Regions from separate parts of the Homo sapiens genome. Here region 1 is linked to region 2. The links come from fine-mapping of genetic effects on gene expression. A gene starts in region 2. The other region holds a variant in brackets. All regions are shown on one strand. Distances are between the middles of the regions.

The links.
Region 1: its variant is fine-mapped to the expression of CCDC57 in thyroid (GTEx, PIP 0.95).

The regions. Positions count from the first base shown.
Region 1 is chr17:82,089,968-82,095,474 of GRCh38, forward strand. FASN (fatty acid synthase) reads right to left here. Exons shown (of 43, transcript NM_004104.5): 3 at 5,353-5,505; 4 at 3,631-3,804; 5 at 3,252-3,452; 6 at 2,930-3,052; 7 at 2,730-2,845; 8 at 2,488-2,622; 9 at 1,255-1,717; 10 at 915-1,102; 11 at 408-597. SNORD134 (small nucleolar RNA, C/D box 134) reads right to left here and starts at 173; the gene lies at 1-173. The variant A/G (reference allele first, on the strand shown) is at 3,340.
Region 2 is chr17:82,210,170-82,215,169 of GRCh38, forward strand. CCDC57 (coiled-coil domain containing 57) reads right to left here and starts at 2,673. Exons shown (of 19, transcript NM_001394669.1): 1 at 2,616-2,673. RefSeq lists a silencer at 2,214-3,133 and enhancers at 3,084-4,026, 4,944-5,000.

The DNA.
Region 1 (5,507 bases), 120 kb before region 2:
GTCCTCTGCAGCCAAGGTTCTTTCCAGGTCCTGCCCACATGTGGCCCATGGGGCTCAGAGATGGGTGCCAACAGAGGGCACCAGTCTGAGGGAACCCTGATGACCCGTGTGTTGGCTTCACCAGAGCCCCTGGGTTCTTGCTATGCTGCAGCTGTGTGCTCATCACACGGGGGCTCCACGCAGGCCTGATGCCCATGGACACGTGCCTAGGCCCAAGGCTGCCAGGTGTGGGGCCAGTGGGGCAGCTGCAGGGGACTCGCGCACGGCTGTGTCCGAGCTGGGTGTCCCCGGGCCAGCGGGGGCCACTCTATCCTACGGGGGCCAGGCCAGGGCTGCAGGTGAGGACCCCACAGCGAGAAGGCAGCCTCCTTTCTTGGAGGTGCTGGGGGCCCCTCCGGGAGACCTACCCACGGCTGCCATGGCGCCCGGCGGGAGATGGGCTTCTTTGATGCACTGTCCCCTCCAGTAGGCAGCGAGGACGGCCTCCTCCTGGGACAGGCAGCCGTCGGCGTAGCCACAGGCCACCTCCCCCAGGGAGTGGCCGACGATGCCATCTGGCCTCAGCCCCATGCAGCTCAGCAGGTCTATGAGGCCTATCTGGGGTGGGAACAGGACACTCAGGTTGCAACCTCCAGCAGGTGCAGCTGTTGGGGGCGGCCCCCGGCCCCACTAGGCCATCTCCACCCCCGCGCCCCATCGACCCTCCCAGGTCTCCTGATAGGAAAGAAGCCCCTATGGCCCCCACACAGCCCCACTGAGACCCCTCCTCCCCTCCCGTCCTGCCCCCAGCACAAGGCTCTGCCTAGCAAAGGGGCTGTCAGGGGCCCCGGACTCAACACTGCAGCTCCTGGGCTCCAGGGAAAGCCAGAGCCCTGGGGCTGGCGTTGCTCACACGCTGGCAGGCTGGGCCCTACCTGGATGGCAGTCAGGCTCACAAACGAATGGACGATGTCATCAAAGGTGCTCTCGTCTGTGCTCAGCAGCAGCTGTGACACCTTCAGGCCGAATGGCTTCACAGCCTCATCGGAGCGTAGGATGGAATCTCGGAAGCGGTCCAGGCGCATGAGGCTCAGCCCCATCCCGCGCCACTGTGTGCCCATCCCTGTCCCAGAGAGCACGTCACGAGGCTCAGCCCCATCCCGTGCCACTGTGTGCCCATCCCCGTCCCAGAGAGCACCTCAGGGGACCACCAGCTCCAGTTCGCCTGCCTTTCCCCAGGGAAGGGACCACCTTGGGGGCAGAGTGTGGGCTCACCAGAGCAGATGAACCAGAGCGGGCGCTCGCCAGCGGGCACCTGCTGCACCTCTGGGCCACCGCGCTCACCACCCAGCACAGCGTAGCCACGGAAGGGCATGGCGGTGGCGGGGACAGCCGCGATGTCGTTCAGCATGCTCAGGAAAGCCAGGTCCTGGCTGTGCCGGAGGCCCTGCTCCAGCAGCTTCTGCACGGCCTCAGGGGTGCGTCCGCTGGCCCGCAGCAGACGGGGCAGGGTGGCATGTGGGGCGGGTGCGGGGGGCGGCTGCGTGTTGGGCCTCAGGATGATGTGCACGTTGGAGCCCCCGAAGCCAAAGGAGTTGATGCCCACGTTGCCGCCACGGACGGGCAGGGGCTGGTCCACCACCTGCAGCCGCCCATCCAACAGCGCTGGGATCTCAGGGTTGGGGCTATGGAAGTGCAGGTTGGGGGCCCAGAGCCCGTGCTCCAGGGACAGCAGCACCTGCGGGGGTACGTGGTGGATGGGCAGCCGCCCCACTCCCTCTACCACTGCCTGAGCTGGGGGCAGGCACCTCCCCGAGACTCTCATGTGGGGCCAGGGTTCCAGGGCCCTCTCCGATGCACTTCCTGTCCCCAACCTAATTCTGCCATGGCACAGGGGTCCGAGGACTGAGCCGCCATGGCCCTGCCCTCAGCTTGGTCCAAGACCTCCCCTTCCGGCCTTGCTGCCTCCCAGCCTGATGTGGACCCACCAAAGCCTGGCTGTGGCCTGAACACTAAGGCCCCCTTGGCCCAGATGTTGCATCTCAGAGGCTGCAGAAGTTGGGGGGCAGAGGGCGTGAGTGATCATGGGTGTTGGGGCTCCTGTGCCTGGTCTCTCTAAAGGTCCCCAGGCCTCTGCTAGTGGGTCAGGAAGCTGTAGGGACGGGTGGGCGACACGGGAGACCCTGATGGTGCCGTGGACCCCCCCAGGCCTGCTCCTGCCTCGCTCTTCCCACCCAAGCGGCTCCTCCAGCTCGGCTCCGTGTCCGGCAGACGCTCTGCAGGGCATCAGGCCTCCAGGGAAGGCCCAGCGAGCCTGGCTACGAGCTCTCCCTGCTGTCAGCCTCAGTGCCTCTGCTCAGACCTGCAGCATAGCCCGGGGGACAGAGGCTCCTGGTGGGGAAGCCCCCGCCTCCACTTGGCAAAGAGAAAGCAGCAGTGCCCAGCCATGGCGCAACCCAGTCCCAGGGAGCAGGAGCCTGAGGGACCCCCAAGCCCAGCCCCACCTACCTTGGCCAGGGCTGCCAGCCCCGAGGCTGGCTCCGGGTGCCCCATGTTGGACTTGGTGGAGCCGATGAGCAGCGGCTCCTGGCGGGTGGCGCACAGGGCTCGGGTGATGCCATTCAGCTCCTGGGGGTCGCCCACCTGTGGGAAACATGGGGGGTGAGGGGCTCTGGCCAGGTCACCTCTCCAGGCATGGGCGTAGGTTAGGCTCATGGGGTGGTGAGTGGGGCGGGGGGGGGGGGCATCACCTTGGTGCCTGTGCCGTGGGCTTCGATGTATTCAAATGACTCAGGGGCCACTCCGGCCGACTGGTACAACGAGCGGATGAGCTGCTCCTGGATATCCCCTGAGGGGAAGGTCACGCCTGCGGAGGGCTCGGCTCAGTGCTGCAGCCCCAGCCCCGGCTCCCACCTGCCCCCCAGCACCCCGGAACCCCGGCAGAGCCCACCTTGCTCCTTGAAGCCATCTGTATTGGTGCCGGCGTTCAGGATGGTGGCGTACACCCGCCGGGCCAGGGACTTCTTGGTCAGCAGGACGGCCACCACACCCTCCGAGCGGCAGTACCCATTCCCTGGGTAGAGCAGCACCTCAGGCCCGGGGCTCAGCCCCACGCCGGCCCCCACCCCACCAGGAGGAGCTCTGGGGTGTGGGGTGGGTGCTTGGGTGGGGGATCCCCGGAGCTGGCAGGATCCTGCTCAGCGTGGGGACTGTGCGGGGGGCCGTCCTGTGCCACTGTCCCGCCTGCCCTGGCCGCGCAGCCGCACACTCACCCGCTGTGTCGAAGGCCTTGCAGGTGCCCTCGGGGCTGAGCATCCCCAGCCTCAAGAACTGCACGGAGGTGTTGGGCTTCAGCAGGAC[A/G]TTGATGCCCCCCACGATGGCGGCAGGGCACTGCCCGCTGTGGATGGCCTGGTAGGCGTTCTGCAGGGCCATCAGGCTGGAGGAGCAGGCTGTGTCCAGTGCGATGCTGGGCCCTGCAAGGAAGGGTGCTGCGGCTCAGGTGGGGCTGTGAGCACACGAGACCCCTGAGCACACCTCCTGCCACCAGGCTGGACACACACTGCACGGAGTGAGCCCACGCCACGTGGTTTCTGCTCAGCATGTGGGGACCTGAAGGCCACCCACCTCCGCAGGAGGCTGGGCAGGACCCACCTCTGAAGTCGAAGAAGAAGGAGAGCCGGTTGGCCATCATCGCTCGCTGGCAGCCCACCATGCTGTAGCCCACGAGTGTCTCGGGGTCTCGGCTCAGGGCCTCCGAGGTCTCAGAGCCGCTCACGCCCACCCAGACGCCAGTGTGTGTTCCTCGGAGTGAATCTGGGTTGATGCCTGCCACAAACAGTGGTCAAGGTGCCACGGCCGGGCCCCACAGCGCAGCCAGCCCACCCACCCACCCGGCTCTGGGGCGAAGGTCCCATCTTGGCCTCACTGGCTTGGGGTGAGGGGGGGTCCATCCCAGTGGGACCCTGGAAGGGGCCTAAGGAGGGTGAGGTGTCCTGCAGAGGGGCCAGAACAGAGCCTGTGGCCAGCAGCCAGCCCAGGTGAGGCCTGGAACAGGAACCAGGTCACAGAGGGAACGAGGCGGAGGGGGCAGGCGGGCCCAGGGGAGGGCACCAGGCACGGCCAGAGTGGCTCCAGGAAGGACAGAGGGCAGCATTGTCCCCAGGCGACGCCTTTGGCCCCTGGTGTCACCGGCAGCTCTGATGAGCCCGTCGGCCAGTGGCCTCTCCAGCGCCAAGGGCAGCCTGCACCAGAACAGGCCGTGATAAGGAACCGAGGAGACAAAGGCCAAGTGTCCAGGCTCGGGAAGGAGAGAGGGACACCGGTCACCCCCGGGGAGCATAACCTTAGTCTTGGGGTGGGGTCTGGCAGCAGGAAGGGCGCAGGAGAAGGGCTTCCACCTCTCGGCCAGCAGGGCCCCTCCTCGCCCCTGGTGGGCTGGCTCTGCCCTAGGGTGGGTGGGTGTGTGAACCGCTCACACCCAAGGGCAGCCCAGGGCTCAGCCTCCCCCTCAGGAGGTCCTTCTCCGCCCGGGGAGGGAGCACCTGGATCTTAAGAAATGGCATGGCTGGGCGTGGTGGCTCATGCCTGTAATCCCAGCACTTTGGGAAGCTGAGATGGATGGATCACGAGGTCAAGAGATCGAGACCATCCTGGCAAACATGGTGAAACCCCATCTCTACTAAAAATACAAAAATTAGCCGGGCGTGGTGGTGGGCGCCTGTAGTCCCGGCCACTCAGGAGACTGAGGCAGGAGAATGGTGTGAACCCAGGAGGCAGAGCTTGCAGTGAGCTGAGATCGCGCCACTGCACTCCAACCTGGTGACAGAGTGAGACTCCGTCTTAAAAATAAATAAATAAATAAAAATAAAAATAAAAAAACGGCGTGGCGCTTGTCCGAGGTCAAATGCCAGTCAGAGCGAGGGCCAGGCTGGCGGGAGAGGGTTGAAATGCCTGGGGTGGGGGGACGTGGGCAAGGGTAGTGGGGAGGGTGGGAGGGGAGAGACAGCAGGGCCGGTGCTGTCCGCTGCTTGGCTGGTGGGGGTGGGGGCCTGGAGGGCCCCTCAAGAACCTCCTGCTTTGCCTCTCGTCACTCCAGCCCCGGCCCCGGCCCCAGCACCAGCCAGACATCAGAAGCGAGGAGACTGGTACGCTCAGGTCAGGGCACACCCGCGACACCTCTGGGGTGCAGTTGGGAAACTGCGGCCTACCCCGTGGCCCACACCTCCCTGAGCCCGTTGGCCAGGCCAGGGGCACAGCCGGGGAGGGTAGGTGGTGCCAGCACCTGGTTCTACCAGAACCAAGAAGAGAAAACACTGCCTATTCCACGTGAGCAGCAGGAGCCCTCGGCGCAGCAGTCGCGAATGCCCGACCCACCTCCGTCCACGATGGCTTCATAGGTGACTTCCAGCAGCAGCCGCAGCTGAGGGTCCATCGTGTGTGCCTGCTTGGGGTGGACTCCGAAGAAGGAGGCATCAAACCTAGACAGGTCCTTCAGCTTGCCGGACCGCCGGGGCAGGCCGTAGAGCCCT
Region 2 (5,000 bases):
TAGAATCCATGGAATAAAAAGATGCACTAACACCGAGACCGCGCCCCTGCAAGCCAGCCTGGGAAGAGATGGTTCTTTCTTATAGGAAAATCCCAACTAATAAATGTAGGAGTAATGGAAACAGAAAAATCATTTAACAAATAGCACATTAACAGTTATTTTGGGGAAACACTCATGGGTGCTAAAATTAGTGACAGAAGTATGGTTAGAAACAAGATCTTGCTGGGCGTTGTGGCTCAGGCCTGTAATCCCAGCACTTTCGGAGGCCAAGGCGGGCGGATCACTTGGGGTCAGCAGTTCGAGACCAGCCTGACCAACATGGTGAAACCCCGTCTCTACTAAAAATACAAAAAAAAAAAAAATAGCCGGGCATGGTGGCAGGCGCTGGTAATCCCAGCTGCTCAGGAGGCTGAGGCAGGACAATCACTTGAACCCGGGAGGCAGAGGTTGCAGTGAGCCGAGATCAAGCCACTGCACTCCAGCTTGGGCGAGAGAGAGAGAGACTCAGTCTCAAAAAAATAAAATTAATTAAAAAAAAAAAAAGGCCGGGCACGGTGGCTCACACCTGTAATCCTAGCACTTTGGGAGGCCAAGGTGGTGGATCACCTGAGGTCAGAAGTTTGAGACCAGCCTGGCCAACATGACGAAACCTCGTCTCTACTAAAAATACACAGATTAGCTGGGGGTGGTGGTGGGCGGCTGTAATCCCAGCTACTTGAGAGGCTGAGGCAGGAGAATCACTTCAACCCAGGAGGCAGAGGTTGCAGTGGGCCGAGATCGCGCCACTGAACTCCAGCCTGGGCGGCAAAGAGAGACTCCGTCTTAAAAAAAAAAAAAAAAGAAAAAAAAAAAAGAAAAAGAGAGAAAGAAAGAAACATCATCTTTTACATAGTGGCAAGATATTTCCCCACAAAATATTTATTATTTACAAAGGGAAGGACCCTAACTTTATGGACACACTTGGCAGACACCACCTCAGCCCCCAGGACGTGACTAGCACCAACAGCCAGGGGCATCCTGTGTCTCGTAAGACGCTGGGAAGGGCACAATTTCCCTGTTGAGGTTTTCTTGCCAAAAATCAGTAATATGAAATCAATTATGACAAAACATCAGAGAAATGCCCCCGAACTGGGGGGCATTTTATAAAATAGTGGACTCATCATTGGATCCTGGACCACGGTAAAGTCATCCATGAGGTAGCTGCTAAGCAAGAATAAATACTGGAGACCAGATCATGGGATGATACCAACATGAACGCCAGCGTCTACATGTTGCTGAATGAACTGTGGTTCTCTAAGAGGTCAGCATTCTAGGGGCTCTGGGCAAAAGGCACACGGGAAATCTGTGCTCCTTTTGTATCCTTTTTCTAAGTTACAGATAATTTTTTTTTTTTTTGAGACCGAGTTTCGCTCTTGTCTCCCAGACTGGAGTGCAATGGCGCGATCTTGGCTCTCCGCAACCTGCGCCTCTCGGTGTGGTACCCTACTTTGTTTTAACCTGACTGACTCTCTCTTAGCTGAGAGGGCCGGACAGACACCATTTTGGTTTCTTCGCTTGCAGCCCCTTGTCCCCGTCCCTTAAGGACATAACTGGGGCAAGCTGACTCCAAGCACATCCAGGAATGCGCTTACTGATAAAATACTGATAAGAAACTGGAGCAAGCTGTACCAGCAGCTCCTGGGAACGCGCTCGGTTGATGGTACCCAAAGCCCCTGCGTTTATCACTTTGTGATAATTTAAGCCCCTGTACCTGGAACTGTTTATTTTCCTGTAACTGTTTCTGTAACCATTTATCTTTTAACTTTTTGCCTATTCTGCTTCTGTAAAAAAATCGCTTCAGCTAGCCTCCCCTCCTCTATTTAGACCAAGGTATCAAAAGAAATCTAGCCCCTTCTTCGGGGCCGAGGGAATTTGCAGCTCTAGCAGTCTGTCAGTCGCTGGCAATACAGGACTCCTGAGTAGTCTCAGAGTGTGGCGTTCTCTCTATAACTCCCTCAGTTACAACATCGGGTTCAAGCGATTCTCCTGCTTCAGCCTCCGGAGTAGCTGGGATTACAGGCGTGCACCACCACGCCCAATAATTTTTGTATTTTTAGTAGAGAGGGGGTTTCACCATGTTGGCCAGGCTGGTCTCGAACTCCGGGCCTCAAGCAATCTGCCCGCCTCTGCCTCCCAAAGTGCTGGATTACAGGCGCGAACCACCGCCTCCGGCCTTTTTTTTTCCTCTCTTTTTTTTTTTTTTTTTTTAAACTCACAGACACTGTAAGGCTGCCTGGGCGCGGAGCCGTCCTTGCCGGCGGCGGAACCCGGGGAATTCTCCCGGGGCTGCGGGGCCCTGGTCGGCAGCGCCCACCGCCCCAGGTCACCCACGGGAGACCGAGGGAACGCTCCCGCTCCACGCGGCCGCAACCCCCGCCCCGCCCCGCCGCAGCCTCCGCGAGGGGATCCCCGGTCCGGGCCTGGCCGAGCTCTGAGGGTCGACCTCGCGCTCCAGGTCCCCACCAAAGCGCTGCGTCCGACAGGACGGCAGCTGCTGGGGTTTTCTACAGGAAGAGTGGTCGGAGCGGCGCCCCCCACGCCTCCCACGCCTCCCACGCCGCCCGCCCGCACCTCACCCTAACGCCCGCCAGCAGCGCTGGCCAGGTCCCGCCGCGTTGCCACAGCGACCGGGTCAGTCGGCCGCGTCCGGCTGCGCTCGGTGCAGCGCTCGGGTCCCGCCGACAGGAAACGGGGTCCCTGGCGCTAGGTTCCGGCCCCTCCCGCCCCGCCGGGTTCCGCGCTGCGCCCGGGTCCGAGGGGCGCCCCGGCCGACCCGACCACCGCCGCAGATCGAAGGAGGGAGCCCGGCCTCCTCACCGGTCAGCGGGGCGACTCCGGACGGGGCTCCGGGCTATGGGGACGGCGGGTTCCGCCGCGCGAGGCGCCCCCACCTTCGCCGCCCCCGGCCCGGCCGAGGGTCCCCAGGCGCCCGCTTCCTGAGGCCGCCCGGCTCGCGGTCCCGAAGGGTTGACTTGAGCTTTTGCCCTGAGATGAAGGGAGCACGGGGCGGCCGAGGCTGCCCGTGGGGGTCTGTTCGGGCCGGGGGCGCCACGAAGTCCTGCCTAAGGGTCGGCTGCGGCCACCGGGGCACGAGTTCCCGGCGCTGCCCACGGGCTCGGAGACCGGCGGGGCCCAGGGGCCGTGCGCGCGGTCGCTCAGACCCTGATTAGGGAACTGGGGGAAGGAGGGGGGTCGGGACCCACCGAGGCCCGAAGTCGCCCCCACCATCCTGTGGGAACAACATCCTCAGGCACAGCCATTCCCAACCATTCACATCCTCAGAAAAAGGCACGTGTCCGTATCCATCTGCGGATGGATGAACAGAGCCCGGCCCCGGGACAGAGCAGCCTGGCTCACCCGAACCCTCAGCCCGCAATTCTGCGTGGGAGTGGAGGGGGTGTTTGGTGTCTGGGAATTCCCCTGGTGGGGCAATAAGCCAGGGGTCTGGTGTCATCCTCCACCCACATTGTTAACACTGGATCACTCCTCTCCGTGCCGTGCCTGCAGCCCAGGCACCCTGCAGCCTGTCCTCCCCGAACCATGCGTCCTGGTAGAGCTGTCTCCCTCGCCCACAGTCCTCAGTCCCGCCTCACACACCAAACCCTCTTCTGCCTCAGGTCCTTTGCGCCAGTTGCCTCTGCCTAGACTTGGTTCCCTGGATGCCCCCTCCCCACCCCATGTGTATGTCCGGCTCCCTGGACCCACCCCCCACACTGTGTGTCTAGCCCCCTGGACCCACCCCCCACTCTGTGTCTAGTCCCCTGGACTCCCCTCCCCACCCCCTGTGTCTAGCTCCCTGGACCCCCAACCTGGCCCATGTGTCCAACTCCCAGGACCCCCCCACCCTGTGTCCAGCTCCCTGGTTTCCCCCACCACCCCATGTGTTTGGCTCCCTGTCCTGCTGCCTTCTCAGTGCTTGTGCACCCCCAGCCTCATCAGACTTGTCACTCTATTAGAACAGGATGTAGGGCCTGGACTGTTGGCTCCCTGCTACCCCCACCCACAGGACAGTGCTGGGGTTGACCCGACTTTGGCTGCACATTTGACTGGCCCCTGGATCAGCTCTAGGACTAGATGTACCCAAAAGGATGCCCACATCCTTGCCTCAGCTCCTGCCTCTGCCCACCCAGAGAGCTGCCTTGCCCCCATGTCCACGATGCAGCCACCAGGCCTGGGTAAGCGTGGGTGTCCGAGACGGGCTGGGACACCCAGAAGAGGAGCCAGGACTTGCTTGGTCTGTATCCCGGCTCTGCATGCCTCAGTGTCCCTGCCTGTAAAGTGGGATCTATGGGAACCCATGTGTGGGCCGGGCACAGTGCTCACACCTGTGAACCCAGCACCTTGGGAGGCCAAAGGGAGGATCCTTTGAGCTCGGGAGACAGGGTCTCGCTCTGTTGCCCAGGCTGTAGTTCAGCGGCGTGATCTCAGCTCACTGCAGCCTCCGCCTCCCAGGTTCAAGCGATTCTCCTGCCTCAGCTTCCTGAGTAACTGGGATTACAGGCACTTGCCACCATGCCCAGCTAATTTTGTATTTTTAGTAGAGATGGGGTTTTGCCATGTTGGCCAGGCTGGTCTCAAACTCCTGACCTCAAGTGATCTGCCTGCCTCGGCCTCCCAAAGTGCTGTGATTACAGGTGTGAGTCATCATGCCTGGCCAAAAAAAATTTTTTTAAATTAACCGGGTGTGATGGCACATGCCTGTGGTCCCAGCTACCTGAGGCCAAGGTGGGAAGATCACTTGAACACAGCACTTCGAGGCCACAGTGAACTATGATCGCGCCACTGCACTCCAGCCTGGGTGACAGAGCAAGACCCTGTCTCCAAAAAAAACCCTCTAAACCTATGTGTTATGGATAGGGCCTCTAAGAAGGTAATTAAAGTTACGTGAGTCCTAAGGGTGGGACCCTGAACTGTTGTCCTTAAAAGAAGAGGAAGAGACACCAGGAGTGAGCACACAGAGG